4 linked regions of the Homo sapiens genome follow. The protein of the gene in region 2 interacts with the protein of the main gene of each other region in a biochemical or structural test. Each region holds a gene or a part of one and is shown on either strand. Other genes may lie near its edges.

What was found.
Region 1: the proteins of ELF3 (region 2) and MED23 form a complex in vitro, tested with the Homo sapiens proteins (4 studies listed by BioGRID, with this or other methods).
Region 3: the proteins of ELF3 (region 2) and SOX9 form a complex in vitro, tested with the Homo sapiens proteins (one study listed by BioGRID).
Region 4: the proteins of ELF3 (region 2) and NFKB1 form a complex in vitro, tested with the Homo sapiens proteins (one study listed by BioGRID).

The regions. Positions count from the first base shown.
Region 1 is NC_000006.12:131,586,202-131,590,242, forward strand, and holds the end of MED23 (mediator of RNA polymerase II transcription subunit 23), read right to left. Parts: intron 3,396-4,041; coding exon 3,264-3,395; intron 1,646-3,263; coding exon 1,478-1,645; 3' UTR 737-1,477; coding exon of another isoform or gene 719-736; 3' UTR 531-718; downstream 1-530. UniProt on the Homo sapiens protein: Required for transcriptional activation subsequent to the assembly of the pre-initiation complex. Component of the Mediator complex, a coactivator involved in the regulated transcription of nearly all RNA polymerase II-dependent genes.
Region 2 is NC_000001.11:202,005,629-202,013,596, forward strand, and holds the start of ELF3 (ETS-related transcription factor Elf-3), read left to right. Parts: upstream 1-4,958; 5' UTR 4,959-5,078; exon of another isoform or gene 5,079-5,192; intron 5,193-5,500; 5' UTR 5,501-5,508; coding exon 5,509-5,671; intron 5,672-6,328; coding exon 6,329-6,550; intron 6,551-6,715; coding exon 6,716-6,808; intron 6,809-7,011; coding exon 7,012-7,131; intron 7,132-7,222; coding exon of another isoform or gene 7,223-7,272; exon of another isoform or gene 7,273-7,318; coding exon 7,319-7,408; intron 7,409-7,553; coding exon 7,554-7,670; intron 7,671-7,968. Other genes in the region: RNPEP (aminopeptidase B), read left to right, coding at 1-88. UniProt on the Homo sapiens protein: Transcriptional activator that binds and transactivates ETS sequences containing the consensus nucleotide core sequence GGA[AT]. Acts synergistically with POU2F3 to transactivate the SPRR2A promoter and with RUNX1 to transactivate the ANGPT1 promoter.
Region 3 is NC_000017.11:72,116,591-72,124,029, reverse strand, and holds the start of SOX9 (transcription factor SOX-9), read right to left. Parts: upstream 3,011-7,439; 5' UTR 2,639-3,010; coding exon 2,208-2,638; intron 1,312-2,207; coding exon 1,058-1,311; intron 488-1,057; coding exon 1-487. UniProt on the Homo sapiens protein: Transcription factor that plays a key role in chondrocytes differentiation and skeletal development.
Region 4 is NC_000004.12:102,595,336-102,602,365, forward strand, and holds part of NFKB1 (nuclear factor NF-kappa-B p105 subunit), read left to right. Parts: intron 1-802; coding exon 803-997; intron 998-2,184; coding exon 2,185-2,326; exon of another isoform or gene 2,327-4,400; intron 4,401-5,559; coding exon 5,560-5,674; intron 5,675-6,309; exon of another isoform or gene 6,310-6,696; intron 6,697-7,030.

The sequences.
Region 1 (4,041 bases), on a different chromosome or scaffold from region 2:
GGCTAACACAGTGAAACCCCGTCTCTACTAATACTAAAAATACAAAAAATTAGCCAGGCGTGGTGGCAGGCGCCTGTAGTCCCAGCTACAAGGGAGGCTGAGGCAGGAGAATGGCGTGAACCCGGGAGGTGGAGCTTGTAGTGAGCCCAGAGTATGCCACTGCACTCCAGCCTGGGTGACAGTACGAGACTCCGTCTCAAAAAAAAAAAAAAAGAAAAGAGTAAGTCTGCAAAAATTACTTTTACCATTATATAAATTTTTAGCTGGACTTGCATGGCCAGTAATGATTTAGTGATGGCAATTACATGAGCTACAAAGAAAATAAAGTTCTAGGAGGAATGTATTTAGAAATATGAATTTGAAATACAGTTGGTTAAATTCACTAGTTCTTTTTAAAAGAATCTGTAACTCTTAATTCCTAGGCCAATGTCAGTCACCAACTGTAGTGTAGGAACCACAGAGTACCCCATTTCCAACTGACCCCAGCCAGCACACCACCTGGCACACAGCCGACACTCATTCCAATGGAGTCGGGAAACAATCACACGGTTTATTCATTCAGCAGACTTTACTCATTAGTTTTCAAGTCTTTCGCAATGCCAATTCCCCCAAAATTAACAATGTCTCTCAAAATCCAAGAAATAAAATGTGTACTGTATTTACAAATATAAAATTTAAAAATTTTAAGATTATAAAAATTGAAGAATTACATCATCTGTCAGGTGAGAGTGTCAACCTGCAAAAGCAATTAACTTATTTTTAAAAAAAGAAATTGGAGAATCAACCATTTAAGCATGATTTTAAGTTCAAGAATTTTCAGATGTTATTTTCTTACATGGCTTCCAACTAATTTTATACAGTAAGTTCAAGTCCATAGCAAAGGTAATAAAACTGCCAGTTGACCTTGATAGAAACTATGGAAATTTATAATAAAATTTCAAGTCATTTTAAAAAGAATATGAAGCCTTGTTTGCTCCTACAATGCAACAAAATCTAGATTCCTTTTCTTGATATAAATCTCTATTATTCTGAAAATCTACCAAGAGATTTATGTATAAAATATTTGTAATAACTGTTTTACATGTGTGGTGCCTTTAAAATAATATATCTGAAGACTAAATATGTCATTAATAATAAAAAATACAAACAAAAACAACGGCTAGAATAGGAAAGACTGAAAGTGCCAATGACAAGTCATTTGATCACAGATACCTCTATGTTCCTACATAGCTCTAATAAGTTGTTATGAATATGAACAACATGTATCTTACTTGATCTCTTAGAGACAAAAATATAGATAGGGAGATGGGAGTTATAAGGTGTCAACAGATTCATCATTTGAATCAAAATAAAACAATCTGAATATCATCACTGCTTCTACTATATCACTACAGTGTGATCGCATTCAGATTTAAAAGGTTTGAGTCCACTCTCAAAGACGGATATATTTCTACTTTCTCCACAGTACAGTCTGGCTTCACTGAGTTACTGGTAAAGACACGGGCACCTGATTAGACTGAGGTGCTGGAGACCCACTGTTCATGGCTTGTGGAGGCACTGCAGCTGGCTCCATCTTGCTAATGTGTGTGATGAATCGAAGACGAAGTTTTAAAGCTGGTTTTAAGTTACAGATAATCTTCTCTACCTAAGAAATAAAAACACATTAAAACGTACTTTAATCAGAGAATTTCAACTTCTCACATTTAAAGCAGGATTTACACATATCCGGAGACAATAAACTAAGGAGTGTCGTGGGGTAGATGAGAAGTTTCTTAACATGTTCTGTGTTTTAAGAAAAGCAGATACAATGATTTCTTTCTTGCATGAGAAACAATACGTTCTCCCTCACACACACCCCTTATATATTATATGTGCATGTCTGTACATGTACCATATGTATATTCATATATATGCATATACTTACAAAGGCGTATCCACTCATCTAGCTAGCCAGTCATCCCACTACCAAAAGCTAGCAGAGTTTACACTGGAAATTTTATACATCCAACAAGTTGATCATTCTTTTAAAATGCCATCTTTACAGAAGCATGAAGCATAATTATAAAGTTCTTTGAATAACTCATGTTTGCAACATTTATCTATAAAACTATTTTGGTTTTGATTTACACTTGGAATTAACTAAATAATATTAGATCTACTCTTTTGAAAAACACTAAGGAGACAAACACATCAAGTCGTTTCACAGCTTTCTTAGCTTTACTCAAATGCTCTTTGACCTTTTCCTTTCTGTACTCCCTTGTGTTAAAGTTTCTTAGGCCTAAATGTAAAGAATACTTTTTTTAAAAAAACAAACAAATAAACAATTTCTTTTACAGTTTCTCTGCATGTTCTGTGTTGTAACAAAAGCAGATACAATTTCTCTCTTTCTTACATGAGAGAGAACAGGTCAACTCTCTTTGACACTGCTGCTGAGACATAAAGGAGTCAACCTCCTTGGCATCTCAACCTAAAGTACTGGGAGGGGTAGGAGGATGGACTTAACTTTCCCTATCTGTCCTACCTCCACTCCTTTAAAATGGCCCAGATTCTGTTTCCTACACGTAGGAAACTCAGTTATGATTCAAGGTCTTTTTCTACTTTCAGACATCCCCATTAGGAAGTTCCTCTTCATATGCTAAGTCAGGGTGGCCTCCCTTTAACTTTACCAGAATTCATACACCCTCTAAAGTGACACAGAACGAATCTAATACCTATTCCAAATGAAAACCCTCCAAAATGCTGAGGTCATAAATAATTCCCTAGGACTTTTTTCTTCAGGATAAGCATTCCCATATTCTCTAAATGCTTTTCATGAGTTAGTCTCTAGTCAGGATTAGTCTAGAATCCTGACTTTAGTCTTCTAGTTATGCCGCGGTTTGTCTACTGTCACCATGAGTGTCAGGAGAAGCAGGACCTCCTTTACTCATAACACAACAACCTCTCTGCTCATATTTCAGCAGCCATATCCCACTGTTTCTCCCTAATGAGATTACTATTAATTAACCCTCTAGGTCTTTTTCAGATTTTCTGTTGCAAATATCAAGGGGGAAAAGTACAAGAAATTATAACATGTATTTCCTTTAATACTACATCTAGAATAATATGCCTCTGATGCCTAAAAAGGTCTCATACCCACCCTTTTTCCTTAAAAGAAAAAATTAGACAAAATAAAAATAATCACCCAAACCAAAAAAGTCTATTACTATATGTTCAAGTTTTCTAAATTAAACATCATTAAAAATAATTAAACAAATTCAACTTACTTGCTCTTTCACGCTGTCACCAGTAAACATATACTTCATGTGATAGAGGAAGTCACAGATGGGATCCATGTAATTTAAATGGGTGCTACACTGGTCAACATTCAGCAGCATGTCATAAAACGCCACACCAATCTATTTAACAAATAATGTAAAATTATTTAAGTGATCAAGTGATTCAGTAATTCAGCATGATGCAGCTGGGCTCCATTACAACACTAGCACCGGGGGATACTGTCTTTGCTGTAGAACTGTCATATACCATATACACCTCTATGCACATGAGATATGATATGGCTTGCATTTATAAAAGAATCTATAGTGCTACAAAATGCCCCTGACAAGGCTTAAATAAAATTTCTCTTCATAGTTAAGTAATTTCTCTTAAAATCAAGAGATAAACAATCCCCTTTCTAGACACCATCTCTCGATGTCTGGGATAACTCCACTCCTAGGGATCCTTTGGATTATACTTTCTTAGTTCCATTTGGTAGCTCTTGCTTTAAGGTTCTACTCCTGGGTCCTTTCCTTGTTTGCGACATTTTGTTAGAAGTGACTGACTTCATCCATTCTCATGATTTTAATTAGCTCCTCTGCACTGTAAGATCTCAAATGTACTTCTCCATCCTTAACCTCTTCTCAACCTTCATGATGGGCGTTTCCTCTGCATCTCCAATTCAATACATCCCACCCTAAATTCATTACTGGCAAACTAAGTCCTCTAAAATTGCTCTTGGATCCTGTTAAACTAGTTTCACTACTAATGGTTGTGACCTGCAGT
Region 2 (7,968 bases):
CAAGGAGACTTTTGCATCCACCGCCTCCCAGCTCCACAGCAATGTTGTCAACTATGTCCAGCAGATCGTGGCACCCAAGGGCAGTTAGAGGCTCGTGTGCATGGCCCCTGCCTCTTCAGGCTCTCCAGGCTTTCAGAATAATTGTTTGTTCCCAAATTCCTGTTCCCTGATCAACTTCCTGGAGTTTATATCCCCTCAGGATAATCTATTCTCTAGCTTAGGTATCTGTGACTCTTGGGCCTCTGCTCTGGTGGGAACTTACTTCTCTATAGCCCACTGAGCCCCGAGACAGAGAACCTGCCCACAGCTCTCCCCGCTACAGGCTGCAGGCACTGCAGGGCAGCGGGTATTCTCCTCCCCACCTAAGTCTCTGGGAAGAAGTGGAGAGGACTGATGCTCTTCTTTTTTCTCTTTCTGTCCTTTTTCTTGCTGATTTTATGCAAAGGGCTGGCATTCTGATTGTTCTTTTTTCAGGTTTAATCCTTATTTTAATAAAGTTTTCAAGCAAAAATTAAGTTACGGATTGAGTGACTATTAAATTTCTTCCACCAGAGGTCCTCACTGTGTTTGTTCAGGAAAGGTCACTGGGGGAGGCCCAGAGAATGACAGTATTTTCCTGTCCTCAGGGAACAGCCAGGGTGAAGGAGGTGGGTGTCCTACACATGCATATGAAAAAAAATATGGCAAAATGGCACAGCTGGTGCAGGAAAATGAAAAAGGAATAGCATTCCAGTTCTCCGTGAAGCAGCTGAATTCTCTATCTGCAGCAGCATTCCCATTATCTTTTCCATCACTAAGAAAAAAAAATGGGCTGGGCACGGTGGCTCATGCCTGTAATCCCAGCACTTTGGGAGGCTGAGGCGAGAGGATCGCTTGAGCCCAGGAGTTTGAGACCACCCTGGCCAACATAGCAGGACTTCATCTCTACCAAAAAAAAAAAAAAAAAAAAAAAAAAGCCAGGCGTGGTGGCTCACGCCTGTAATCTCAACACTTTGGGAGGCTGAGGCAGGCAAATCACTTGAGGTCAGAAGTTTGAGACCAGCATGGCCAACATGGTGAAACCCCATCTCTACTGAAAAAAAAGATAGATGCAAAAATTAGCCAGGCATGGTGGCTCACACCTGTAGTTCCAGTTACTTGGGAGGCTGAAGCAGGAGAAACACTTGAACCTGGGAGGTGGAGGTTGCAGTAAACTGAGATCATGCCACTGCACTCCAGCCTGGGTGACAGAGTAAGACTTCTCAAAAAAAAAAAAAAAAAGCTGGGCGTGGTGGTGCATTCCTGTGGTTTCAGCTACTCAGGAGGCTGAGGCAGGAGGATCACTTGAGCCCAAGAGGTCAAGGCCACAGTGAGTCTTGATTGTGCCACTGAACTCCAGCCTGAGTGACAGAGTGAGACCCTGTCTCAAAAATAAAAATAAAGTGTCTTATGACTTTTTATCTACCCTTCTGCCCATGCCCAAGGCTTCACTGGGCCTCACCTGTCTTTGATCCTAGATAACTATTTGAATGGTAATCAGTAAAGTCTTTAGAACTTAGCACTAAATTCTGATTTCCTGGCCTCAACATGGGGACCTAAACAGTTAGCAATCTGGGTTTGGGAGTGGGATGAGGGGAGGGTTGGAAGAAATATTTAGTGTGTTTCATTTGCCTTTCTTAAATACAGGGCACCCCTGAAACAGGCTTTGTTCGCAGCTCTGCTCTGTCCTCGGATTTAGGTTATCGAACAGGCTTCCTCCCTCCCCTGCACAAGGGTTGGGAATGAGTCGATTTGCTTTCACTCAGCAAGAGCAAGGGACTAGTGGTGACCAAGTGGTAGACTGGAGAGGCCTCTGCCCCGTGGCACACAGCTCCACCATCAGAGAGGGTGATGTGGGTCATAGGTGAGGGATCTGGAGGCCCGGTATCGGAAGAGCTTCTCCAGGCACTGGCATTTTGACAGCAAACTGCTTCCGTGGCTCTTTCAGGACTGTTCCTGGCAATATGTTATTGGCAAGGACTATTTTAGGGCTATCCAGTTGTCTCCCCCTCTCCCCAACCTTTTATCTAGCTTATCAGTAGCTATCTTTCCTTGCTCTGTACAAAAACCTATAGCACCAATAGGCCCAGTAATCATGAAGGGTCAGTGCAAGGAAAGGCTGGAAGCCCTTCCTCTAACAGCCGTGCTGTGACTCCACTAACTTTGTGGGGTCTCCCATTACATAGCGTGGGTATCCTGAGCTGTGCAGCCTGCCTCACTCACCACCTTGGTACCTGACAGGACTACTGGATGTGCCTGTCCTTTTGTAGGACATTCTCCCATCCCAAAGATGAGGCTGTGCTGCCGTGTGGGCAAGCTCTGTGGGGAGAGGGGAGGCCAGTGGGTTGTTTTTGCCATCACAGAATACTGGGAAGCCCCTGGCATCCTGCTCCATAGCTCTCTTCACCACTATCCTGGAACCTTCTCCCCACCCCCATCCCCATGCCTCCAAGGCACTGACCTCAAATCCAAGTCTTTCTCACTTATCTCAAGCTGCCAGCCTGTAGGGATTCCTTATCTCAGCTCCATGTCAGCGGTGAGGAAGCCCCAAGAAGGCAAGGGAGCTGACAGCCTTCTCATTTTTCTCGTACATCCTCCTGTTCACCCCGCCATCCCGGGAGCCCCAGCCAGATGCTCTTCAGGGCAGGGAGCACGTGAGCAGCCCTGGGGCTAGAAGCCGGTTCTCCCACATTCCTGGGTGAGGGACTGGGTGGAGGGTGTGCCTGCCTCAGGCTCCTTGGGGGAGGCCCCCTGAAGGGCTGGGGAAAATCCTACTGAGCCCCAGGCTCTCCTGCCTGCACTGGCCCAGTGCGGGGGCGGGGGGGCGGGGGGATCCTGGACATTAACTCTCTCCTAGGCACCTGGGAGCTTCAGAGAGGAAGAAGGTAAGGTAAGAAGCAGATTCTCTGCGCAGGACTTTCTTAGTCCTCAGGCTATAGAGTTAAAGAAAGAAGTATCTGTAGAAGGTGGAGTCACCTTTTGTTTGAGTAACCGTTTCACCCACCCTGGCTGAGGGTGGCCAGGAACTCCCCAAGTTGTGCATTAATGGAGGGGGGTCACACAGATCCTACATTTTTTTGTTTTTGTTTTTTTTTTTTTGAGACGCAGTGATTACAGGTGTGAGCCACCGGATCCTACATTTCAAATGCATAAAAATCTAGATATGGGCTGGGCGCAGTAGCTCATGCCTGTAATCCCAGCACTTTGGGAGGCTGAGGCAGGCAGATCATGAGGTCAGGAGATCGAGTCCATCCTGGCTAACATGGTGAAACCCCGTCTCTACTAAAAATACAGAAAGCCGGGCATGGCAGCGGGCGCCTGTAATCCCAGCTACTCGGAAAGCTGAGGCAGGAGAATCGCTTGAACCCAGGAGTCAGAGGTTGCAGTGAGCAGAGATCACGCCACTGCACTCCAACCTGGGCGACAGAGCGAGACTCCACCTCAAAACAAAATAAACAAAATACTAGATCTGGAAGAGATCTTAGGGATTATTAAATTCAGACAACCTCATTTTTTATAGATGGGGAAACAAGCACAGACTCCAAGGGTCTCATCCAAGATCACACAGTTGCAGATGCTGGCTACAAGTCTCCTGCCTCAACCACCTGTATTACCCCATTCAGGGTCTCAAGAAGGGTCTATAAGACACTATCCATTGTGTTTCGGGCTGAGTCCATAGAGACAACCACAGACATGGGGGACTCTGCCCACAGGGAAGGCAAGGGCTCTGGCCATGGAGCTGGATGGGAAGACTCTGAAGCCCGAAGACATTGAATCCTGTGCAGGGAAAGAGCGAGGGTTTTGTGTACAACACACCTGCATACCTGGATGTGAATCTCAGCTCCACCCCTTCACCAACTCTGTGTGGCCTGGGCAAGCCATTCTAAGGGAACCCTCCACACTGCAACTTTCATGTCTATAAAATGGGAATAACCATGCATTCCTTACAGGACTTTTTTGGTGTGAGGATTAAATGAGAGAATATGTTGAAAAGTGCTTGGTAAATATATTAATACTATGCATTCCCTCTTCTTTGAATGACGTGACCCAGGTAGTCAGGCTTCTGACCACTAGAGGGCAGCAGAAGGTACTGGAAAACTGGGCCGAGTGAACCAGAGATTAGATGGGGTCCAGAGAGCAGGGATGAACTTACCCGTGTGGATTCTGGCAACTCCGGCAGGGAGGGCTCCAGCAGGCGCTGAGGGAAGAACTTTCAAGCAGAGCCGGGTCTCTTCAGGAGCGACTGCAGCAACCCTGATGCTTGGATGGAGTCCAGGCAGGTGATGGTAGTGAAGACCTTGCCAACAGAGTGGGCGCTGGAGAAGGAGCCCTTTAGTGGGGACCCTGGGGCCACGACTAGGCTGGCAGGCCCAGCCAGCACCAATTAATCCATGAGTATTGCCCAGCATTGAGCCTGGAGCACCTTCCAGCCCCTGGCCAGAGTCCTGGGTGTTCTGGGAAAAACCCCTAAACCTAGTAACTCCTCTCCCTACTAGGCCTCTTTGTTGCTGAATCTCTGGAATTTAGGGGCCAGCAGCTTTCTGACTCAGGTCAGCCAGGGGTTCATGTTCCCTCACTTGCCCTCCCCCTGCCTGGCCCATCTCTGGCCTGGCCCCTGGGAGGAATTTCCTGGGCCAGAGGGCAGCCGAAAGCACAGATGCCCACCCCAGCAACGTTCCCGCCACCTGCCCAGGCCAGTGCCCCGTGCCCAACCCCAGAGGGTGCGGGATGACAGACTCTGACAATCATTAAACCAGCCGGGCCTGATTTCCCAGCACTGCCTGCTAAGATCCGGGCCAAGTGGCACTGAATATGCAAATCACCTGGGGCCAGGAGCCCAGTCTAAAGGCCAGGAAATCCCCTCCATCCAATGAGACACCAGCTCAGGTTACTGCAGGGGACACACTATAAAGCCCTGAGCTCAGGGAGGAGCTCCCTCCAGGCTCTATTTAGAGCCGGGTAGGGGAGCGCAGCGGCCAGATACCTCAGCGCTACCTGGCGGAACTGGATTTCTCTCCCGCCTGCCGGCCTGCCTGCCACAGCCGGACTCCGCCACTCCGGTAGGATTCCCCGCCTGTCATTCCCTAGCCCAGCTCTTGGGAAACTGCAGAGGGGTCCAGAGGATTTGCAGTTCTGAACCTGCACACTCCAGTCTAGGATCTCCGAGCAAGAGCGTAGGTGTCCTGAGGGTCAAAGAACAGAGAGAGATTGTCTCTGGGAAGGCAGAATGGCCATGACGCCGCTAGTCTGGCTCCAGGGCCCCAGAGATCTGAGGAGGGAAGCCCAGCTGGAGGCTCCTGTGGTCCTGCCCTGGTCTGAGATCTTGGAGCCCTTCTTGAAGAGACGGTGTCCGCAGAGTTGCTGATCTTCCTGCCCCTGGGGGCTACTCTTGCCCAGGGTTGGGCAAAGCAGAGTAGCTGGGAGTGTAAGGAGAGGACCCTCGTCCCCTCACCAACCTCATCCTCTCTCCCCCTACCCACAGGTAGCCTCATGGCTGCAACCTGTGAGATTAGCAACATTTTTAGCAACTACTTCAGTGCGATGTACAGCTCGGAGGACTCCACCCTGGCCTCTGTTCCCCCTGCTGCCACCTTTGGGGCCGATGACTTGGTACTGACCCTGAGCAACCCCCAGATGTCATTGGAGGGTACAGGTGGGTCTCAGCGGGGTGGGATGGGGCACGGAGTGGGAGACAGATCCATCTAAGGGCCTGTTAGACAAATGGGGGAATAGGCAGGGAGGAGGGTCTCTAGGCAAATTCCAGGGCTAGAGGCTGAGACTTAGTGACTGAGGTGCTGGGGGTTGTGGGGCTGTGACAGGCAGAGGGAGGTGTCAGATACCAGGACAAGGGTGTTGTGAATGCTACCTCCTGCCCCTACTCTTGGGATGGCTCCAAGGGCTGAGGTGTGAATCCCCAGTGTGCTCCAGGAATGGGGCTGTGTGGGCTGGGAGTGGTGGCTCACGCCTGTAATCCCAGCACTTTGGGAGGCTGAGCTGAGCGGATCACCTGAGGTCAAGAGTTCGAGACCAGCCTAGCCAACATGGTGAAACCCCGTCTCTACTAAAAATACAAAAAAAAATTTATCCCAGCGTGGTGGTGGGCACCTATAATCCCAGCTACTGGGGAGGCTGACGCAGGAGTATCGCTTGAACCTGGGAGGTGGAGGTTGCTGTGAGCCGAGATTGTGCCATTGCACCCCAGCCTAGGTGACAGGAGTGAGACTCCATCTCAAAAAAAAAAAAAAAAATGGGGCTGTAAGGTCTGCTGGGTGGCCTGAGCTGAGCCTGTTTCCCTGCCTGGCCCTTGCAGAGAAGGCCAGCTGGTTGGGGGAACAGCCCCAGTTCTGGTCGAAGACGCAGGTTCTGGACTGGATCAGCTACCAAGTGGAGAAGAACAAGTACGACGCAAGCGCCATTGACTTCTCACGATGTGACATGGATGGCGCCACCCTCTGCAATTGTGCCCTTGAGGAGCTGCGTCTGGTCTTTGGGCCTCTGGGGGACCAACTCCATGCCCAGCTGCGAGACCTCAGTGAGTCCAGGCCCCTGGAGGCTGGGGAGCAGCTCCACATGTTGAGCTGAGTCGAGTTCAGTGTGGCCGTAGGCAGGCCCTGGAGCTCTGGGCCAGCTGCACAGCCAGAGAGAGCCCTTGAGGGAGGGATTAGGGGAGTGTGACCCTTCCTTCCTTCCTTGTCAGCTTCCAGCTCTTCTGATGAGCTCAGTTGGATCATTGAGCTGCTGGAGAAGGATGGCATGGCCTTCCAGGAGGCCCTAGACCCAGGGCCCTTTGGTGAGAACCCGTTTTCTCCTTCCTTCCCCAGCCTGTCTTGTCCCATCCCTGCCCCTCCACAGAGTGCTAGAGATGACCCCCTCCCCAGACTTCTTCCTCCCTCAATTAGAAAAATTGCAGCAGGTCATCAGACCCATGGGCAGCATCACCTGTCCTGGTCTGGTCCCCTGAGCCCTCTCTGAGTTCTCACCTCCTCTTCCCAGACCAGGGCAGCCCCTTTGCCCAGGAGCTGCTGGACGACGGTCAGCAAGCCAGCCCCTACCACCCCGGCAGCTGTGGCGCAGGAGCCCCCTCCCCTGGCAGCTCTGACGTCTCCACCGCAGGTGAGAGCTCTCTCTGGGCCACAACCTCCCTTCCCCGAAGTGTCCCTTGTTCCCTCTGGCTCCCAGCACCATAACTCAGGCCTTCTGGCAGGAACAGGAACAGGCTGGGAAGTGTGTCCTGAGAGCCAGCAGCGTGGTTGAGCAGAGGGTGGGCCGGCAGGGGACTTACTCTGACCCCGCCCCCCAGGGACTGGTGCTTCTCGGAGCTCCCACTCCTCAGACTCCGGTGGAAGTGACGTGGACCTGGATCCCACTGATGGCAAGCTCTTCCCCAGCGGTGAGTCGAGGGAGGTCCCCAAGAGGGCGTCCCATTTAGCAATGCACAGGGGGCCCGGCTCTTCCTGCAGCCTTTTCCTGTAGAGGGGCTACTCTCCCTAACTCCCCTCTTGCCCCTCCTTGACCTTCCACCACCGTCCCCACAGATGGTTTTCGTGACTGCAAGAAGGGGGATCCCAAGCACGGGAAGCGGAAACGAGGCCGGCCCCGAAAGCTGAGCAAAGAGTACTGGGACTGTCTCGAGGGCAAGAAGAGCAAGCACGGTGAGCTCCGGGGGCACGTGGGTCCTCCCTGCGCCGGGCTGAGCGGCTTCCTGGGGCACTGCGGGTTGTTGCAGGTATCCCTTCTCCCGTTTTCTCTGGCCTCCGCATGGCCTTTGGTAAGGCTGTGCACAAGCTGGGGGCTCTATGGTATCGGTCACCACCTAATTGCAGAGCCTGGCTTGGTGGTCCTGGAGAGGAGGAGGAAATAAGGCTCCCAGTGGGAGGCTCATGGTACCAGAGTCCTGTCCACTGACTCCAGTGTCCTGTCCACTGACTCCAGTTCTCTCTGCACTTGGCC
Region 3 (7,439 bases), on a different chromosome or scaffold from region 2:
TGGCCCGGCTCGCTGCTCAGCGTGGTCAGCGTGTGCGCCTGTGGCTGCTGCGGGGGTGCCGCCGGCTGCTGTGGGGGCGCCGCCTGCGGCTGCGGGGGCGCCTGCGGGGCCGGCGGGGCCTGTGGGGGCTGCTGCGGGGGTGGCGGCGGCGCCTGCTGCTTGGACATCCACACGTGGCCCGCGCTCGCCGGGGTGGCCGCGGTGCTGCTGATGCCGTAGCTGCCCGTGTAGGTGACCTGGCCGTGCGTGGCCGGCACCCCCGGGTGGCCGTTGGGCGGCAGGTACTGGTCAAACTCGTTGACATCGAAGGTCTCGATGTTGGAGATGACGTCGCTGCTCAGCTCGCCGATGTCCACGTCGCGGAAGTCGATAGGGGGCTGTCTGCCCCCCTCTGGCAAGGGGCGCCCCTCTCGCTTCAGGTCAGCCTTGCCCGGCTGCACGTCGGTTTTGGGGGTGGTGGGTGGGGTCGGTGGGCCCTGGGATTGCCCTGTGGACAATAAAAGAACAAGCACGAGAAAATCAACAAGGGCTGTGCAGACGCCCTAGTCTTAGGCACCCTCCGGGGACCCTCCCTCGCTGCTAAAGTGTAATAAGGGCCCGCACCCGCGCAAGAGGCGCGCTGCACCGGAGATAAGTCGCCCAATGATTAACCCGCCGGTACACACTGGACAGCCCCCTTTTATCAGGGGAGGGTCTGGGGCCCGGAGGGTCCGGAAGACCTAATTGCTACTTGTGTAAGAGCCCTGTGTGTGCTTTTGGGGTGGGGGAGCAGAGAAGAAGGGAGAGGTCTTGTAAGGCTGTTAAGGGCATTTTACCTCCCAATAAAAAAGTTAATCTCTTCGGATGCTGGGATTGAGTTGGGGTGTGTGTGTTTGTGTGTGTGTTGTTTGGATGCCTCTTAGGCTCTGGGTAGAGAGGGGAGCGGGACGGGCGCAAAGGGCAGTGTGTCCCTCCCGGGAAGCATAAAGTCCCCACGAAGAATCTCCCAGGCGGAGGGCAGGGGGTGTGCCAGGCGGGACGGAGATAGCTTGTCCGGTGGGGTCGAGGGGCGACTCACCCGAGTGCTCGCCGGGGGAGTGCACCTCGCTCATGCCGGAGGAGGAGTGTGGCGAGTCGGCCTGCAGCGCCTTGAAGATGGCGTTGGGGGAGATGTGCGTCTGCTCCGTGGCCTCCTCTGCCTCCGCCTGCCCGTTCTTCACCGACTTCCTCCGCCGCGGCTGGTACTTGTAATCCGGGTGGTCCTTCTTGTGCTGCACGCGCAGCCGCTCCGCCTCCTCCACGAAGGGCCGCTTCTCGCTCTCGTTCAGAAGTCTGCTCGGGGCGGGGCGGGGGGCACAGAGAAAAAGAGGGAGAGGGGTCAGTGAAATCCGCCAAACTGTCAGGTCGGCGGGGAGGAGGCGGCGACCCAGACCACTCGGCTTCCTCTGCACACAACTCCATCTTCCCTCCTGCCTGCAACCACAGCTCATAACTTTTCTTAAAAATAAATAAATAAATAAGTTATTGCAGTCTGACCTGAGCGGTCACTCCCCGCCCCCTCCCTCCCCTCCCCTTCTATTTCTATTTTGGAAACGCTGGAGATGAAAACGACTCCCGGTGCTGCCCCCTAAACGCCTTTGCTGCTCGACTTACCGCCCCCAACCCCAACCCCCTTTGAAAACTTTCCCCCAAATTACTTAAGCTGCAAGAAGGTCCCCAATTCTCACCCCCCACCATACACTCCCACCTATTTCCAGTAGCCTCCCTCCTCCCGCCTCCCAGTTCCTGCCAAGGGTCTCCTCCAACCTCGGTTTCTCCCTTGCCCCATCTCCGTGGACAGTGGGGCTGCACGAGAGAGTGCAGTTTTAAGAGGCCGGGTAGGAGGGAGGCAAGTTTCACTTCCCCGCCCCGATTGAGCTTCCAGGCGACTGGAGAGCAGGCTGGCAGCCCCCTCCTTCCGTCTCCCACCAGTCTTCGTCCATCCTCCAGCTACCTCCCTCACCTCTTCCACTTACCACCCCCCTCCTCCGCGTCCCCGCGAGCAGCCCAAGAACTTTGTCAAACTCTGAGCCACAGTTACACCCCATTCCCACTCCCAACCCCATCCCGCCGGCTCCCGGAACGGCAACTCCCGGGCGATGGGAGGCGGGGCGGGGCAAATCAGCCCTGACCAGCGCCCCCAGCCGCCGCGATGCCCACCCTGCCGCGCCGCCCCCGCCGGGTCCTACCTCCAGAGCTTGCCCAGCGTCTTGCTGAGCTCGGCGTTGTGCAAGTGCGGGTACTGGTCCGCGAGCTTCCTGCGCGCCGCCTGCGCCCACACCATGAAGGCGTTCATGGGCCGCTTGACGTGCGGCTTGTTCTTGCTGGAGCCGTTGACGCGCACCGGCATGGGCACCAGCGTCCAGTCGTAGCCTTTGAGCACCTGGCTGACCGCCTCGCGGATGCACACGGGGAACTTGTCCTCCTCGCTCTCCTTCTTCAGATCGGGCTCGCCCTTGGGGAACGTGTTCTCCTGGGGCCGCGTGTTCTCGGTGTCCGAGCCGGAGCCCGACGGGCAGGGCGAGCCCGCGGAGTCCTCGGACATGGTGGGGCTGGGGGCGCCGGACAGGCCCTTCTCCTGCTCGTCGGTCATCTTCATGAAGGGGTCCAGGAGATTCATACGCGGGCCCGGGGCAGGGGGCTGGTGGCCGGGAAAGGCGAGAAGCCGCGGCGGCTCGGGGACTCGAGGCGCGGGCTCCTCTCCCCTCGGCTGCCCGGATGCGGAGCAAGCGGCTCCCGGGGAAGCTGGCGCGTCGGCCGGCTACCGCGGCGAGCACTTAGGAAGGCGCGGGGTGGCCAGTTCACAGCTGCCCGCTCCAAGTGGGGGGAGGCGAATTGGAGAGGAGGAGGAGGGGAGGAAAAAGAGCAAAAGTGGGGGCGCTTGCACCCCTTCTCTTCTCCTCCTGCAAAGAAAAGTTTCCGGGGTTGAAACTGGCGAGTCTCCGCGCCACTGAAGTTTCCAGTCAGTTTCGAGCTCCGCTTTCGGCTCTCCAACTCCCAGCCCAGGGTCTCTTTAATAAATACTCCGCCTCACCTTAGAGCCACCCGCCAATCACAGCACAGCAGTCCCAGGGTTGGCAGGCAGCTGATTGGACCCGATTTTGGGGAGGGAGGAGGATTGTGGCACTGGGCTGGGTGACGAGGCGGGAGGGGAGGAGAGGGGAGGGGATCGCAGCCAAAGGGCGGACGGTAGGGTGGGGGGGCGGGGGGTGCTGCGGGGAAGGCGGGGGACCCGGGACTTCCAAGTGTGTAAGTTTGTCGTACTCTCGGAATGCCAGAATTTTAGTGCCTTCTCCGCGCGAATCTTGTGTGTGTGTGTGTGTGTGTGCGCGCAAGTGTGTGTGTCTAGACTAGGATCTACCCCCACCTCCGACATTTCTTTTCACTGCTCTCTCCGCGGCACCGGGGACTTAGCTGGAGTTTGCAGTATTCGAAAAGCAGCCGCTTCTTAATGCGTAGCCGAGTTTACGCGCCTGGAGCGAGCCTGCCTGCCTGCAAAAGTGCTTAGAAATAGTCTTTTGAAGCAAATGTTTTGGTGACTCAACGCCCGCTGTTCCTCCGTAATAATCCATATAAATAGATTAACATGCTCGGGTTCGCCGGGGCTGGTGCGGCTGGTCAGGATTCTGCTGCGCTTTTGCAAAGGGAGTCAATGGAAAGCAAAGCTAAGTCCCCGCGAAGGTTGGCAGCGGCGGCCGTGGCCACGCAGGAGCCCGGCGCTCTCGAGGCCGCCCCGCGCCACATCGACCTTGAGCTCTGACAAGTCATTCTCCAGCCCCCTCTACCCGCGACCCTGCCGACGCTCCTCAGTAACAGGGCTACTGCTCTGACGTTTTGGTCTTTGCCTCCTGGCCGGGTCAAAAACGTCAGCCGAGTCGCCCTGTCTGGGGGAGAGTTTGCTAACTGCTCTGGCTTTGAGAGATAGAAGTTTGCCAATGCGGCTGTCCCGGGCCGCGAGGCCCAGGCCGGTCACTTGGTTTGTAAAAGACCAAACAAATGGGCACCACCGCAGACAAAACGCTCCACTCTGGCGGAGTCATGCTGCTTGCCTGCTTTTGCTGGCATTTACGAAACACCTGAAGGGGTGAAGCGCCGGTGCTTCTGACTCTAGTCCGGTCGGTTCAGACCTGCATGTAGTTGGGAGTTCTGGGGGAGGCATTGGTGGTGTCTCTCATGTATTTCAAGTGTGATTTGAGCACAACCTTTGTGTTTACACGAAATGCTTAGAGCCAGGTTGGGTAAGTGCGGAGCTATCTGCTCTGGGATAGAAGAAAAGTCTTGGTCGCTTGCGGGTTCTGTGCTTTCAGAATCCCAAATAAACGCACAGCATTGGGAAACTCTTAATTTTAAACTCCCCCCCCCCCCCCACCCTTTTGGGCTCTTGCAAAAATTCGCCTCAATTAAATTATTGTTGTGGTGAATCGGCCCACATCATAATAAAAACTAGTTTTTTTTTCCCTTTCTAATTTGCGAAGTGAGGACACTATCACAAGATCCAAATCAATGTCCTTCCGGGAGAATTTCTTAAAATCTTGTTTTCTCTCGTTGTCTTCGGAAGAAGCCCGACATTTCTTATAGGAAATGGAACTCTTCATAAGGTAGTAAGTTACAGCCTTGTTCAACAGCATTTTTTTTTTAACGAATGTAACTTCTTCAAATGGGATGTTTCTGGTGCCCTATAGCTCGTTTACAAATTTAAGAGATTTGCATACAATAGCTTCGTATCCAGGGCTCTGTGATTACTTTCAGAAAGTGTAAGAACAGCATCGTCCTTTCCTAGGAGAAAAAAGTCCGCGTAGTGTGGACCTATTTCTGTGTCCCGGGTAGAAGGGCATTGTGTGTACAGTATAACTGTGTAATTCTCAGACACCTGATTCAGGAGACTCGGAGACCATCGGGCAGACATTTTAGCCAGGTCGTCTGTACTTAGTTGTATGATATTGTAATTACCATGTTTGCTGGAATAAAGTCAGTGAAGAGGGCTATGACTTTAAGATATTTTGGAATATTTCACTAAATATATGTCAAGATATATACGTATATGTATAAATATACTTTTAATGCAATTATGCAATAAGATACTAATATGTAGAGTTTTACATCATAAACGACGGGGATTTATACATTTCCCGTTGATTTGATGCAAGCATTTTTGAATTTTACATCTTCCTGAAAACTTATGAACAGGCGACTTAAAAATGGACTGCAGTTTTCATCTGTATCCAGAGGGGGCGCCAAAAGCCCAGAAACTGTTTCCAACTCCGAGAACCAGGGAAAACTTGGATGGTGGTGGCTGGGGGTGGTGTGTTCCAGTCAATCTGGACTGCTTTGCTGCTGAGATTTATATTTGCAGGAATTCCTACGCGATATTCCCTCCTGTGCGGATCCACCTCTGCGCAGCTCAGTGAGGGAACTTGTGTCTGTAGAGATCCGGGTGAAAAAAGAGCACTTGAGATGCCAGCCGTTCTATTCTGCGCAGAATTTGGGGACTGAGGCCAGGAGAAGGCCCCTATCCCCCAGGTGCCAAGCGTTGCCACCGTCAGGCCAAGTCTAGCGCGTGGCATTGTCAGCTCGCGAGTGGATCGGTCCTGCATTTCTGCAGGGGCCTCCTGGTGTCCACTCCCCTTTCCCCATTCAGGGGCTCCATTCGCTTCGTTGTGTCTTTCTCAGGTCGCCCCGACCCCTCCTCCCTGACCTGGGAAGACGCGCGCAGTCCCCGACCAGAGGACCTCAGACACAGGTAGAAGGAAAGGAACCCGCTCCTGATGTTCAGGTTACAGATCTGGAAACTAAGGCTGTTGACCCAGTGTTGGCTAGAGCATTTTGCCAGGGGCGAAAGGAGCCAGGGTCCTCCATCTGATGCGGTGAGGGAGGGAAAGGGCGCAGGTCACGAGGCAGGAGACGGAGGGCGCTTCTCCGTGTTCGGGACGTGCTTTCGGATACCCGCTCTTGAGCAAGCGCCGCGAGGTCTGCCGCCGGGAGCGGAGACACAGAGGTGCGAGTGGCTCCCCAGGGAAGCCCTCGGGAAACCGAGGTCTGGGATCTCCCCCTTTCCCCCTCTTGCACGTCCCGGACCGGCGCCGGGCTCAATTTCCCCAGCGGGGGCCGCCAATCTCTCCTCCGCGTCTACGCGGGAGCTGAGACCGGAGCCCAGAGTTGCTGGCGCAGGGCGAGTTTCTCGCAAACACTCAGTGCTCAGGATGGGGGTGAGGGATGCGAGCTGATGGGGTTCCTTTTACCTGGCGAATTAAGGACCACAACCTCCCTATCCAAACTTCCTTAGCAAAAGTGGGGACGGTGTTTAAATCCGTTTTCGGTAGGGACGCTTTTCTGTCCCTAGGGAAAGTTTGGTGGGGTGAGCAGCGGCGTCCCCCAAATATCTCAGCCCCGGACAATGTTCTCATTAGAGGTGATGGGAGAAGGGGTTACCCCTTGTCTATTCCAGTTCCCCAGGCCGGGTCCCTTGCAGGTAGAAGACTCCTATCCCTGGAGGGACAGGTCCCCGTGTCGCGGGCTCCCAGCCGCTCCTGTAATTAGTACATTTCGCTGGGCTTGGAGAGTGTTTATCGTCCGCTCTTCACGCCGGACACGAGTTTCTTGTGGAAGGGAGCGGCCGGTAAGCCCGTCTCTGGACTGGCGCTGGGCTGGACAGCAACAGCTAAGGGGAAAAGGAAAGTACCAGATAGCGTCGTAGGTGCGCAATAAATATCTGTTGACTGATCGAATAGATGTCACCTGTGGACGTGTTGCCCGAGTGAGTGCATGTCCCATCACAGCCGCCAGACCTCCCAGCGACAGTTGCGAACACGCGATGCTTGTGCATTCCTGCGTGTGTATTTCTCCCCACACGGGAGCCCGACTTTGGGAAGTTGACCGGCATGTGCCACTCAGGGCTGTGGAATCCCGACTCCGCTAAAACTGCAGACCAAGAGGCCCGTTTCAGTTTTCTTCCCTTTCCTGTTTTCGAAAAAAAGAAAGATGAGGTGGACGGGAGGTGTCGGGTGAGGGGGCGCGAACCTCCAATCTGCCCTGGTGACCTGGCCGGGTCTGGGGGCGTCGGGCGGCTGTAACACAGCAGGGCGCCCCGGGGGTACGGACCGGAGCCCAAGTCAGAGACCAGACCAGCTGGCTTGTCGTGGAGCTGCGGAGCCGATCAGGGAAAAAGGAGGGGTGGGAGTGGAAGGCCCCAGTCCCAAAGGGACAGCGCTCCCAAAGGGAGCGTGCTCTTTTTTCATTCTGGGTTTTGCGAAAATATCTGTCCTTAGCTGTGGCACCGGGGAGCCGCGCGTCATGCGGCTTCCCTCAACTCATCCCTAGAACGCCCTGCGGAAAATTTCCTAGGCCATCTCTTCCCCCTAACGCCCACTCCCACTATTTTAAAAAGTCTTTCAGGCATTTTTAGCTGAAGGTGATTTTGCCTT
Region 4 (7,030 bases), on a different chromosome or scaffold from region 2:
GTTTTATAGGATCGGTCTTTTCCCATCAAGTCATCCCCTGAGAAGCTGCAGTTAAACCACATGTTGATAGTTTATATTACAGGTCCATTCTAGTGTACCCATGGAAGAAATAATACTATAAAGAAGTCTTCCCATTTATTGAATACCTATTTTTGTGCCAAGTGCTTTTACATGTTTTAACTGTTATCTTCATGACTGCTCTATATGGAAAATAGTAACTCCATTTTGCACACAAAAGGCATCAAAGTTCAGAAATGTTCGTACTCACTGAAGGCACACAGAAGTTAGTGGCAGAACAAGAATTTGAAGCAGGTCTCCTGCAGAAAAGCTAGATGCTCTCATAGTATCTGTCAGATAACATAGTTGAACCTGAAAGAGGGTGATCAGGAATGGTACACTGGATAACTCCCACACTAAAGAATGTGAGTCGACAACACGTCTTTATGATTTGCTTTGTTCATTAGCATTAGGAAAAAACTGCTCTGTTTTCAAGAACTTTAAAAATTCAGCTTTCCTGCAATTCATAGAAGAGCTTTATTTCATTTTTCTCCTTTACAAATAAGCAAAATGAGATTTAAGATTTTAGAAGTATACTAAAAATGATTTTTAGAAATGAGTTTAGAATATCTCCAAAACATGGTATTTATGATATGACCATTTTTAAAAGAATTTTAAATTATTATTTTTCTTTTCCTTTTGCAGCAAACTTGTCTCTTACCTTTATCTGACCTACATTGGAATAGCGAATTATCACTAAATACATTTTACTGAGAAAAATCTGATGTTTTTGCATTTATCTTAGGAACCATGGACACTGAATCTAAAAAGGACCCTGAAGGTTGTGACAAAAGTGATGACAAAAACACTGTAAACCTCTTTGGGAAAGTTATTGAAACCACAGAGCAAGATCAGGAGCCCAGCGAGGCCACCGTTGGGAATGGTGAGGTCACTCTAACGTATGCAACAGGAACAAAAGAAGAGAGTGCTGGAGTTCAGGGTAAGTGAGCACACAAATTACGTTCTGTTGGTTGGCTGGGGAGGGGTCAGTCCTAGGTGCAGAAAGATATCTGCTAATCTAAAGATGATATATCAATATCTAGTTTAGTGTACTCTTCAAAGTTCTGTATGCCTTTGGAAAAGCATATGTCAGATCATTTTATTCACACTGGGATTTCCATTTTTGCTCTGTTATCTTTGAATGTAAAGGACAGAAATTTATATGTACATTCTCCAGTCATAATCATGCAGTTTTAGGGTATTGTGAGAGATAATCAACTTCTTTTCTGGCACAGATAAATAGAGAAGTATTTCCACAAGCTTAATAGTCACCCTGTCTAGATTCTGGCTTAACCGTCATACTGAAATAGAACTTTGCCTTAAAATAGGAACTTTTCTTTTTATCTTGTGCCCTCTTTGAAGAAGTAGGATTAGGAGAAAATGTACTTTTGCGTTTACTGTGAACCAATACTTATTAGCATATGTGTCATGATTCTAGGTCATCCTAGATCGTACTAAGAAGACGTCTATAAAAGCAAAGGTAGTAAATATTTAGAGTTGGTGGCCACATGTGGTGTCTATCACATATGCTTTTTTTTTACACCCCTTTAAAAATGTATAAGCCATGATTAGCTAGGGAGCTATATGAAAAGCAGGCCATAAACAGGTTTTGGCCCAAAGGTCACAAATGCCATTCCCTGACCTTAATGGAACAAACTTTACAAAAACGTGAGTGGCTCATTGAACGTCTCTGTTTATGGCAGAGATGTGTGTTTTTTCACACATTGCCTAACAAGCTAATTGTTAGAGATTCCAATGAAGGATTATTTCACCAAGATATTGGTGATTTAAAATCATGGTAAAATCTAACATTGTTTGGAGATTGTTTTCCTTAAAATAACAGATAATGGTCGTTCCCTTAAAATAATACATTTCTAAACTTTTTTCCTCTAACAAATCATACACAGATTCTTTAAGATCAATCTCTAACTATATTTGTCAGTGACCCAGTGTCCAATTCTGCTTTTTCTAGTCCACACAATCCAAAAGCATTGAAAGAACATTTTCAACTAAAATGATATGTCAAGGTGTCAGAACACTGATGCTGGTCAGTTTGTCCTTAAGCATGCCATACCCATAAAACAAAAGTAGGAACACTCAACTATGATTGTGGTCATTGCCTTACAGATAACCTCTTTCTAGAGAAGGCTATGCAGCTTGCAAAGAGGCATGCCAATGCCCTTTTCGACTACGCGGTGACAGGAGACGTGAAGATGCTGCTGGCCGTCCAGCGCCATCTCACTGCTGTGCAGGATGAGAATGGGGACAGGTAAGTCAGAACTTTTGCATGATAGGTTGTCCTGGGTGGGGAAGAAGAAGAGCATCGTATAATGCATACTGACTAGAGATAAAAATAATTGTTCAAATATATTGAGTCCTCTAACTGGAATGATGAAGAAAAATAATGTGTGAATAAGGTTAAGTAGCACAATTTGCTGCTCCATCCTGCTGCTGTCATCTGTTGGAATCTGTAGTAGCTGGAGGACTCATCTAAGAGTGAATCTCTCTGGGCAAGAAAACTAAGATGTGTGTAGGTAATGGTACTTTTTGAAAAGCCTTGCTTTGTTTATTGAAGTAATATTTGGAGAATTGTTAAGAGTCCTACCAAATCCCTGAAGCATTGTTATCCCAGCTGCATATTTATGACAGTGTACTCAAGAAAAAGCCCAATAAAGGCAGCAACAACAACAGAAAGATTAAGAGGGACTGGTCATTATTTCCCAGTTACTGGTTTCTTCTCTGCTCCCTCTTCTGATGGTCATCAGTCTATGACTGTTTCAGACTTTTGTGACTGCTCCAGCCCATATGTGGGAGTGGAACATTCCAAACACCATGCCTTCCATTCTTGCTATTACTGAGATTGTATTTGCAAAGCCACCTGGCTTCTTTCTAAAACAGTTCTCTTAGTCCTTTCATTGAGACTTCTAAAATGATCTCAAAAGCCTATAAAAATAACAAGAGACAGCAGCCTTCACATTCAAGTCAAGTGCCTTATCTAAAACCTTCCTAAAATAGCATCAACATAGAGAAATCCTTTTCTGTGGAAGAGCTCTTGAGTGCTGTGTTTTAGACTTCAGTTTAAAAATTAAACCAAGCACTTTAGGAAAGTAACAACCTCAGGGTTTCAAGCAGAGACACCTTTGTTCTCATTCCTTGCAACGTAACCAAGGATGTGGTATAACCACTGGCCTTGTTATACAGTATGAGAGGAACCAGTACAACCTTCTTGGTATAAAGCCATGAACAGCAGAATTCTTTTTCAGGGTTAAATAATCCAGTTAGCATTCAGTAGCATACAACCACAAGAAAAAGCAGTTAACCAAGACAGTACAGCAGTGTTTCAAGTGGCATTTCCAGGGACCTGTTAAATTGATAAGTCTAAGAAGATGAGCACATACAGGTTAGAAAGGAAGTGCTGATATCTGAAGGGAGGATTGTTGGAAGGGATACAAGGCGAGGCACATGCAAGTTCCCTCCTAAGACCCAAGCACACTCACACAAGCCGGCTCTCAGAGAGGCCACAGATTTGGGACTTGGAGAGACCAGAGGATCCTCATAAGAGCATAGGTATAGGGCAGCTTTTGGCCATCACAGCCCAAGTCTCTTGTTTTAATTCAGCTCGTCATATTTGGCTAATAGTTTAAATCCTGTGGCCATTAGTCATCATAGAAAATATAATAAAGAAAAATATATAAAACTTCTGCTATTGGGGAAATTCCCATAAGGGTGTGAGGATTTGAGGGGGAGGGGGAATGTACTTCTGCTATGAAATGCTGAGCGGCACATGGAAATTTTCGAGCAGTTTTAGAAGTATGACCTTTTTCTTGGTGTATGTGCATCATGTCTATGTCAGAGTTTAGGCCCTTTTCAGAAGTCTTCTTCCAGTATCACATTTCAAGAAGCAATAGTGAAACCCTGAGATCATCCGTTTTAAAATATTTCTCAAGTAGCAAAATCACAATTTAGTTTTTTAGGCTCTTCTGTGCCGGAGTTAATCCCAAGTACGATATACTTGCTATTGCTAAGGAAGAGGCTTGAGTAAAGTGGCACCTGATAGCTTATTTTAGAGAAGATCCAGCCTGTACCTCGTGTCCCAGATGTAGTGCTGCTGCGAGATGCTTTAGTGTGCTCTGCACCTCAATCTGTCCATGCTCTGGAGTGGTCATCTTCTTAGACATTCATCTGAATGTCTTTAGAACAGTGCACATGTATCCCCTATGCAGGATTGCTTAAGGGATTAAGAGATGGCTTTGGAGTAAGACAGGCCTGGGCTTGAATCCCAGCTTCACCACGTATTGGCCTTGACTGAGTTATATGACGCCTGCAAGTCTCAGTTTCATTAGCTGAAAAGTGAAGATAATATTACCTAACTCATAGGATTATTGTTATAGTAAAAAGACAATATATATCAAATGCTTAGCATAGTCTGGTAAATCAAAGCTCCCAACAAATAGTAGCCACTGGTAAAATGATTGTTATTGTTATTGTTTTGAATTTTAATAGTATGTTTTTTAATAATTAAAAGAATTACGCTCCTGTGAGTGACTTTGACACCACCAGTATGTTCAGCCTCATTAGCGTAAGCTCTTAAGTTCCTTCTATCATTCTTATTTTTGTGCCTCTACTGCATGCTAGGGTTGTAAGGCTGACTCAGACAGAACCTGCCCCAGAGATGACAGGACAGAGAACGAGAAAAATGTGTAGAAAACTGCAGTTGCATAACCAAGCAGTAAATTTGAGAGGGACAACTTGCTCCACCTAGGAGGTTAGGAAAGTATTCTCTGAGGATGTCAGGTTTGAACTGGAATATAAAGGATGGAGTAGGCATTGTTCAGGCAGAAGAAAGGAGCAAAAACATTCCAGGCAGAGGGAATATTTGCTGGAATGTTTGCAGGAGTGGTGGGAAATACAATCACTTTGTTTCTTCACAAGTTTACTGCAAGAATTTTCTTCCAGTAGTTAAAAGCTTCACTCCATTCTCCACTCTTGGGATCTGGAAAGATCTTTAAAAAACCACCACACTGTATTTTGGAGGAGGGCAGCAGGGCTAAGTGAGGTAACTAAGTTTTTCTGAACAATTCCTAGTGCCAGGCATTCATTTTACATAGAATCTGTGTGTCAGGAAAAGTCAGGGGGAAAGGTAGAGAAGAAAACCGCCCAAAGCCATGGTATAGAGGCAGGATTGGGATTTAAGCTTAGGTCTTTCTGGGCTGGAAGCCTCAGTGTGTTTATACATCAAGGGGTCAAGACCTGAATGCTCCCAGAGGCCAGGAAGGTACCACAAATAACGTAGCAGCCTTGGGTAGGCAGTTGGGAGGGACCAGTCCTCTGGAGACAGCATCCCACCTCAGATTCAATGCATTTTATAGATTCAAAACATTTTAGGGCCAAATAAAACTAGGTATGAGAGCAGATTCCATTCTTGAGTCTAATCACATCTTGGGAATCTTTTCTTTTTCATTAACATTTTAGTTAATTATTGCCACTGTGTTTTCATTCCAGTGTCTTACACTTAGCAATCATCCACCTTCATTCTCAACTTGTGAGGGATCTACTAGAAGTCACATCTGGTTTGATTTCTGATGACATTATCAACATGAGAAATGATCTGTACCAGGTAAGCAGAAATCTCAAGAAAACAACTGAAGAAAAATCTGTAGTTTACTTTTTCTTCTGTTATGTTTGGGTGCATGTTATTTTTAGTAATGTTAACAGTAGCAAAAACAAAAACAAACCTTTGTAGGTAATATCTAAAATCCCATTAGTTGAGAATGTTACTTTATGATGTAGGATCCTTTGATCTGTGGGTATAACAGCCATCAAGCCACAATGAAATTCAGCATCCCGCTGGGGGAAGGCAAACTTTAAACTTTAGAAATCAAACAGTTTTTTCATTTAAGAGGGAGAAACTAAAGTAAAAATGTCACATCTGTCAAGAAAAATAAAGTTAAAAAAAGTTTGAAAAGCCAGTAATTTATAATAATTTTGAAGTCTACTGAAACATACCTTGACAACATCCAGATTAAATGTATATCAAATGAAGCATTCTGAAATCACCACACAGAAAGGTTAAAAGTTTGCTTGAGGAGGAAAAGGTGTCTTTCAAAAGCAGAAAGACAGCTCCAAGTGAGGAAAAGTGGGAACACCAGAGTTTTGCCCAAATCAGGTTTTCTTAGGAATTAATTAGGTGGGCTGAAAATACAAGTTGAGGAACTGTTTTTTCCAGAGGTCTTCCAACACTGCAAAGGGAGAGTTAGCTGGAGACACAGCGAGGCCCTTTGATGGGCATATGCAGAATTCAGGGAGAGGCAAGGAGCCTGGGAGCCACTTCGGCAGAAGCAGAGCTTGGACGTTGGTGATGGGAGCCCAGTGACCCCAGCCAGCCTTTCTGGCTGAGCGACTGCACTGGCATGAAACCAAGATGGGGTTCGGCTCCTGAGGTTTCCTCCTTCCTGCCCCTGATTGCTTTTCCCACCTCACTGTCTTTCCCCTACTCCCACCAGTCTGCTGTATGGGGCTCCTGCCCTTGCCCACTTCTTACCTTTCCATTTGTCTCCTTCCCTTCATCGACCCGAAGCATCTTCCTCATCCTCCTTGGAGAGATGGTTTGCTGGTTCACGTGTATCTCTCACTCCAAAACTATGGCCAAAATCCTGTGTAATTATTTACTTAGTAAAGATATTTGTTCCTGCTCTCTCAGTTTTTATAGCAGTGATGTGAATCATTTCTATTTCCTCACTTTAAAGGAAAATGCTTTTATTATTTTAAAGAAAATTAATTAAAACTTCATTTTCTTTAAAGGAAATTAAAATATCTATTTTCTTATTTTTATTTCCATTCTTTAAAATGTGCTTTAGGCTGGGTGCGGTGGCTCACACCTATAATCCCAGCACTTTGGGAGGCCGAGGCAGGCGGATCATGAGATCAGGAGATCGAGATCATCCTGGCTAACATGGTGAAACCCCGTCTCTAC